2 linked regions of the Homo sapiens genome follow. The protein of the gene in region 2 purifies or fractionates together with the protein of the main gene of each other region. This does not show direct contact. Each region holds a gene or a part of one and is shown on either strand. Other genes may lie near its edges.

The links.
Region 1: the proteins of TANGO6 (region 2) and SLC31A1 purify together in Homo sapiens (co-immunoprecipitation; one large-scale study listed by IntAct). This does not show direct contact.

What each region holds. Positions count from the first base shown.
Region 1 is NC_000009.12:113,224,283-113,228,106, reverse strand, and holds part of SLC31A1 (high affinity copper uptake protein 1), read right to left. Parts: intron 1-3,824.
Region 2 is NC_000016.10:68,926,768-68,930,591, reverse strand, and holds part of TANGO6 (transport and Golgi organization protein 6 homolog), read right to left. Parts: intron 3,025-3,824; coding exon 2,509-3,024; intron 355-2,508; coding exon 297-354; intron 1-296.

The sequences.
Region 1 (3,824 bases), on a different chromosome or scaffold from region 2:
TTGCAAAATTTGCAAAACAGATATTAAAATACCTACGCTGCCAATCTCATAGTATTGTAAGGGTCAAATAAAATATGTTAAATACTTTCCAATTTTAAGGTACAGTAAATATGAAATATAATAGCTTGCTTGCTCATTAGATGACAAAATTAATCTCTGAAAGGAACTAAGTCACACATAAGGCTCACTTTCATGTTTCTTGAAGTATACAGCCTTTCACAGTTTGATTTAAACAAAACTAGCTAGTCAGACAAATATACATTGGCAAAGCATTGCTTTAACTGCTTTATTGTTATAATCAAATGTAGACAATGGTCCTCCTTGTCTAAACTTTGCTTTAGTTATATTACATAGCATTTAAACTGTTTGGATAATAATGTTGTTGGTTTGCCTATGAGTAATATTGGAAATTAATATGGCATAAGACAGAAACTAGAAAACATTTGAACTGTTCCCTTTTTTTTATTCAGTAGGAAAATGCAATTAAATATGTTACACAAGATAAAAGGAACTTGAATGATTTAATGAAAATGCAGTACAAGAATGCAAATGAGGCTGGACATGGTGGCTCATGCCTGTAATCCCAGCACTCTAAGAGGCCAAGGTGGGCAGACTGCTTAAGCTCAGGAGTTTGAGACCAGCCTGGGCAACATGGCAAAGCCCCGACTCTATCAAAAATACAAAAAATTAGCTGGGCGTGGTGGTGCATGCCTGTAGTCCCGGCTACTCGAAAGGCTGAGATGGGAAGATTGCTTGAGCCTGGGAGACAGAGGTTGCAGTGAGCTGAGATTGTGCTCCTGCACTCCAGCCTGGGCAACAAAGCAAGATCCTGTTTCAAGAAAAAATAAAAGAAAAAAGAAAAAAATTGTTCAATATCTCAGATAGAGGCTGTATGGTGTGGCAGTAAAAGTACTGGGCTAGGAACTGAAAGAGGTTCTACATCTGCATTCTAGATCTGGCTCTTAGGTCTCATTTGCTATGCAATTTCAAGGAACTCAGACTATTCTTTCACTATTTATTGCATACCTATCGAATGAAGGTACCATGATGAAACTCTAACCATAAGAAACCCATTCTGGTGAAAGAGGGACACATGTAAATAATTTAAAAATAATGTAAAATGTACTAAGGTATAGATTATGCATAGGGGTTGTGTGAGAACTCATAAAAAGCCATCAGAAAAGGTAGGAGAGAGGATGCGGGTGTATGAGTTACACCATTTCCCTTTCATTTCATAAATTAAATGACTACATTCTAGATGCTGTAAACTGCTTCAAAATTATATAAACACTCATCATAGTTCTACAATAACTCTTCTATCTAGGGAAATATGTCACCTGTTGCTAGAATTTTGCTCTCTTTATATGTTCCCTCCAAATCATTTCTCATATTTACTTTTGAGATTCAGGCTTCCATCTTACCATGCTGTATTTCATAATGTCCTAAGCCTACAAAAGCAGGTTGTATACAAAAGCCTAGGGCCATTGTGTAAAGGAAAAGAGGTAGGGTGGACCCTTCTCAACCCTTTCCTTCTCTGCAGGGCTTTGCATTCCTAAGGATGGGCCCCTCCTCTGCTTGGGGATGTTACCTAAATCATAAAATGATATTACTCAAAGCAATGGAACTTCAAAAGCATTTCCTTCCCAGGCCCTACTATAAGATTTCTTTTGGCATAAACTGTTCATTGTAATGTATTAAGTATCAGACTTTTGATGACTTGTTATACTTAAGTCACAAAACTACAGAAAACTTTTAAGTTTTTAAAATGGATTTAAGAGCTGCATGTGGGAGTACAGGCATCAGGAACCCCCTACCCCTTCCCTCCCTTTTCCCCAGTCAGGCCTGCCCTGTCCACTTTAAAATGCAGTTATTTGGGTGATGCCCTGTTACTAACTTAACTGACAACTGCTAGTTGAAATCAACTTGTCACTGTAAACACTTTGCTTTCTTTATTTCTTTTTTTTTTTTTTTGAGATGGAGTCTCACTCTGTCGCCCAGGTTGGCGCACAGTGGCGTGACCTCAGCTCACTGCAACCTCCGCCTCTCCGGAGCTCAAGCAATTCTCGTGCCTCCGTCTCCTGAGTAGCTGGGACTACAGGTGCCCGCCACCATGCCTGACTAATTTTTGTATTTTCAGCAGACACGGGGTTTCACCATGTTGGCCAGGCTGGTCTCGAACTCCTGACCTCAGGTGATCTGCCTGAGCTGGGATTACAGGCGGGAGCCACCACACCTGGCCGAACACTTTGCTTTTCTAGTGATTATTATATCATCTTTCTCTCTTGTAGCACTTCTGGTGGGAAAGGTGCAAAAAGGAATTAACAGTAGAGATGAGTCTCTGATTCCTAAGTCCTTCTCTACCAAGACTTCCAAGTTGGACAAAAGAGGTAGAGAAAGACTTAGGAATCAAAGACTCTTATGAGTATGGTATCTACTTTCAAAACAGTCATTTCATTTTATTCACATTTAGTATGGAAACTTTATTTTTCTCAATTCAAAATTGAGATTATAATCCAAAGGAAAGCTGAATTGAAAATTTTAACAGATTAATACCAGTGCCCCAAGTGGTGTTTACCATGCCTTCACAACAACCTCATGTTCTAGGGGCCATTAGAAAATGAAGTGGCTACTGACATGGAATGGAGCTAGGGAAATGTAACTTTTTACTTCATACACTCCTAAGCCATTTGAACTTTTTTACATCAATCATGCCATTTAGAATAAAAAATTCCACTTCCTACCAATCTAAGTACAAACTTGTCACCTTGACCTTCAAGGTATTTGACAAATATGGTCCTGGATTCCTTTTCAATTTTAATCCATTACTTTCTTCTGTGAACTGTTGCCTTATACTCTTAGCAAACTATCCCACAGAACTCTCTTATCCAATTTAACTGACATCACACCATTAGGCTATTCTCCAATGTGATGGGAACAACACTTCTGGTTCCCCCTCTGTGAAGTGTGCTTATCAATGGTGACAGTGTGTTTATTCACAAACCTATTTATGCCAGTTGTGCTTATTACTGAAAGTACGTAAATACTATGTAAAGCAATGAAGTATAAATGAGAAGAGAAAAATGACAGCAGCAATTAACACTGAGTACTTACTACCTGCCAGGCACTGTTCTAAATGCTTTACATGAATTAACTCCTATAATATTCACAAGAAACCTAGAAATGGATACTACCATTATGCCTGTTTTACAAAGGCAAAAACTGAGTAACTTGTCTATGGCCTATACAACTAATAAGTGGCAAAGCAATTTGGCTCCAGAGCTCAAGTACTTAACTACTGTACTACATAGACTCTCTAGTAGTTATTTCTAAAACACCACACTGAATGCTTTCGAAAGACCAGATAAAAGTGAGCACACAAGGCCGGGTGCGTTGGCCCACGCCTCTAATCCTAGCACTTTGGGAGGCCAAGGCGGGTGGATCACCTGAGGTCGGGAGTTCCAGACCAGCCTGACCAACATGGAGAAACCCCGTCTCTACTAAAAATACAAAATTAGCCGGGCATGGTGGCACATGCCTGTAATCCCAGCTACTCGGGAGGGTGAGGCTGGAGAATCGCTTGAACCCGGGAGGTGGAGGTTGTGGTGAGCCGAGATTGTGCCATTGCATTCAAGCCTGGGCAACAAGAGCGAAACTCTGTCTCAAAAAAAAAAAAAAAAGTGAGCATACAGATAACACATAAACTTGCTGTTAGGTGTGGGAGACAACAGAAAAGTCTGGAAGGACATTTCATAAACACCTAGAAAGATTCTGCAGTGAGACTGCTTTGCAAGTGACTTTAAGTATTCATTCCATGTTAAAAATAC
Region 2 (3,824 bases):
TGTGTGAGTCATTCTTTACCTCCTTGAATTAGAGGAAATACGATTTAATCTACAGAATATGTAAACATTAATAAAAACTTCCTCATCATTATGAGACACTGAAACTCTATAGGGACTCTTTGGAAACCCTTCAGGAATATTATTATTATGACTTAAAGTGTCCTAGCTAGGAGGCAGGAAGACGGACAAAATGACCAGTAGTCTCCTGGCCCTAGGACTTTAGAGATTTTGTGCAAATAAACATGATACAGTCTCTGGTCCACATACTTAAAGTCCTTTAACCAGGACTGACTTACCCTGAATTGCAGATAGATATACAAAAGTGTCTTCATGTTCCAAGTTTTCCAAGAATATCTGGAACCACAAAATACAGCAGTGATAAGATTTACAAAGAACAAGGAAGATTTAAGAGGCTCCCTTATCAGCAGCTCAAAGGAGTAAATGCTTCGCTTCTTGTTTTTCTTGGGTAGAAACTGGTCTGACAGAGTTTTGTGGGGGAAATGGCATATATGCTTAAGTCTCATTTTTATAACCATTAAAAAAGTATAGAGACTGGGGGAGATACTTGTATTCTTCCAGCAGTAGTCCTGGAAACCGATGGAAGAACAATCCTCAACATTTTTCCATGACAGCCATGGTGAATAACATTCTCACATATGGCATGACAGACTACGGGGTGTGACACACAAGAGACAAGGTTTGGGGTTATGTGCAATGGATGGCACATTTGCTGCAATTTGATCCTTTTCTCTTGTACTCACAAAGCATATGGAAGTGCAAGTGAGATAGAGATGTTATTATTGAGATAACTTTGAATCTGTTCTAATTTATTTTTGAAAATCTTGTAAATTTCAGCACTTTAATTGATATTAGTAACAAATTACTCTCAAAATATCTTACAATTTAGGAACCTATCAGGGGTATCAACTACAGTGAGTACAGCTTATCTGGAAGATATTACATGATATGTTAGGTTTAGGCCCCAACATGAGAGCCAGAGAAAGGAAGACGGAAGTGTCTGCTCCATATATAATGCTGTGTTCTTCGTTGGCACAGTAATTCTTGACATCAACTTGATGCTGCTGGTCTCTACATGTGAAGTATGTACGGAGAGCCTAAAATTACCCCAGTTAGGAAGACGGCCAGTTTTGAAGGTAGGGAATCTTTTATGGAGTAAGCAAGGGAAGCTTAATTTAGGGTAATGGCCATGGAAATAAAGAGGATAAGATACATTTGAAAGACTTCTTTGAAAAAAGAATTGACAGGACTTGGTGACCAATTATGTACAGCAGAAGAAGGTTTAATTAAGCTAAAAAAAATTCCAAGATGTTCATTGAATTCACCTTCAAATAGGTGTATAAAAGGATATTTAAGGCCAGGCGCGGTGGCTCATGCCTGTAATCCCAGCACTTTGGGAGGCCGAGGCAGGTGAATCACTTGATGTGAGGAGTTCAACACCAGCTTGGCTAACATGGTGAAACCTCATCTCAACTAAACGTACAAAAATTAGCTGGGTGTGTTGGTGGGCACCTGTAATCCCAGCTACTTGGGAGGCTGAGGCAGAAGAATCACTTGAACCCAGGAGGTGGAAATTGCAGTGAGCTGAGATCGCACCACTGCACTCCAGCCTGGGCGACGGAGCGAGACCCTGTCTCAAAAAAACAAAACAAAACAAAACAAAAAACAGCTATTTCACCACGATGAAGGGAGAGAAGAGGGGAGGAGACCCAGTTTTGCCCAACGCCCCACTAAAGATGCCCAGAGAAAACAGGTGGCTTATCTGGGCTGGGTCACAGTGTTGAAGCAGACCTATTTATCACAAAAGGTACTTTCCCATCTCTGGGAATTTGTTCAAGCTATCCCACCCCTCTTTCATCTGCTCAAACTTTACTAGTTTGTTATGGCCATATTAAGGCCTACATCCTCCAGAAGATTTCAACTTTCTCTTTTTCCTGACTGCCCACAGCATTTCTTGCATGCAAAAATTTTGAAGGATGGGTGTGGTGGCTCACGCCTGTAATCCCAGCACTTTGGGAGGCCGAGGCAGGTGGATCACGAGGTCAGGAGATCGAGACCATCCTGGCTAACATGGTGCCCGTCTCTACTAAAAATACAAAAAATTAGCCGGGGGTGGTGGCAGACACCTGTAGTCCCAGCTACTCGGGAGGCTGAGGCAGGAGAATGGTGTGAACCCAGAAGGCGGAGCTTGCAGTGAGCCGAGATTGCACCACTGCACTCCAGCCTGGGGGACAGAGCGAGATTCCATCTCAAAAAAAAAAAAAAAAAAAAAAAATTGGCACTCAGTTCATATTCATTTGAGGAGTTTAAGTCTTTCCTGTGTCTAAATAAATCTTTCCTGTGTCTAAGTGTTGCCTCCTCACAAAATTCACAAATTTCTGGAGGGTGGTCCAGAACAGCACTTGACACATAGTCCAGGCTCCAAAAATACTTGAGTTGAATGAATGCCCCACCCTGTGCCCATGTGTCTTTACAGTGTGTTCTACTCACCTTGAGAAGCTTCTCTTGCATCTCAAGGGCTTTTGCTTCTCTCTGCTCTATCCAGTGGGAAAGAGTACGCAGGGCAGCAGCCCGTGTTGGAATTTGAGGGTCATAAGCTGACAAAAGAACCTCTTGGAGCTGTTCTGTGGTTACGCTTCCAGATTTCTGACTTGTAGTAGTGCTGGGCTCATTGACTCCTTGAGGAATGATTGGAGCATTTGACTGCAGGCCTGTCTGGGGGGCTGTCTCATGGCTCTGCTGTTGTTCAAGGTGGCTATGAGCTACATCAGTGGGTCTTTCATGACTGGTTTGTTGCTGCTCTTCTATTTTCCCTTCCAGATCTTTTCTGTTCAGTGTACTTTGGGCAGCCATGCTGACGGCCTCAGTGGCAAAGGCTCCATGGGTAGAGATGGTGATGCGGAGATCAACAGCGAGTTCTTGGATGACCGGATCAGGGTATGTGTTGGATACCTTCTCCAACAGAGGCAACAACTGCTTCAGAACAGCAAAATCACTTGACTTCAACTACAAAATGAAATAAAAAATGTCAAACCCAAATTAACATAGCAAATTTCAATATGACCTGAGCACCAGGAAACATATTCTGAGAAAAAAGGGCAGGGATCAAATCTTGCTCATGGTGTAATCAGTGTATTGCCTGGGTCCAGCACTGAATACCATTTGTTGAATAATCATACCTAACATTTATTGAACACTTATCATATACAGGTTCTTTTCTAAGATAAAACACACACACACACATTCATATCCTTGTGATATAATGACTATTATTATCTACATTTTAAACAGGTGGAAACAGAACGGTTAAGTAACATGCCCAAGGTCACAGACTGGAAGATAGTAAGATGTGAACTCAAGAAACTGGGATCAGAGCCCACACTCTCACCCAATACCCTACGCAGTCTCCCTTGAAAAGATAAGGCTGTTCTTAACTACATGATCTAAAGTGGCCAGTCAGTATGCAAGTGCACCATAGATCTGGAAGGGATCACAGAGAAAACGGGAAGAAAGGGATTTCTTCTGGAAAGTGGAAGTGAAAATTATATAACATTTTATTCTCCATGGAAGCTTTGTCTGAATAATGTCATATGCCTTACTACTAAGAAAGGTGCATGAGTGTTACAGCTCTATTAGAATTTGTCTAGCAGGTTTTCTGGTCTTCACTGGAAAGCACCCCCCTCACCCACTGCCACCCAAAAGGTGTATGTGTGATCAATGAAAAGTAAGAATCAATGGTAATACTTTTCTGTTTGAAAACACTGGAGAAATTATCAGATGAGGCTTCAGGAGACCCTGAAAATTTG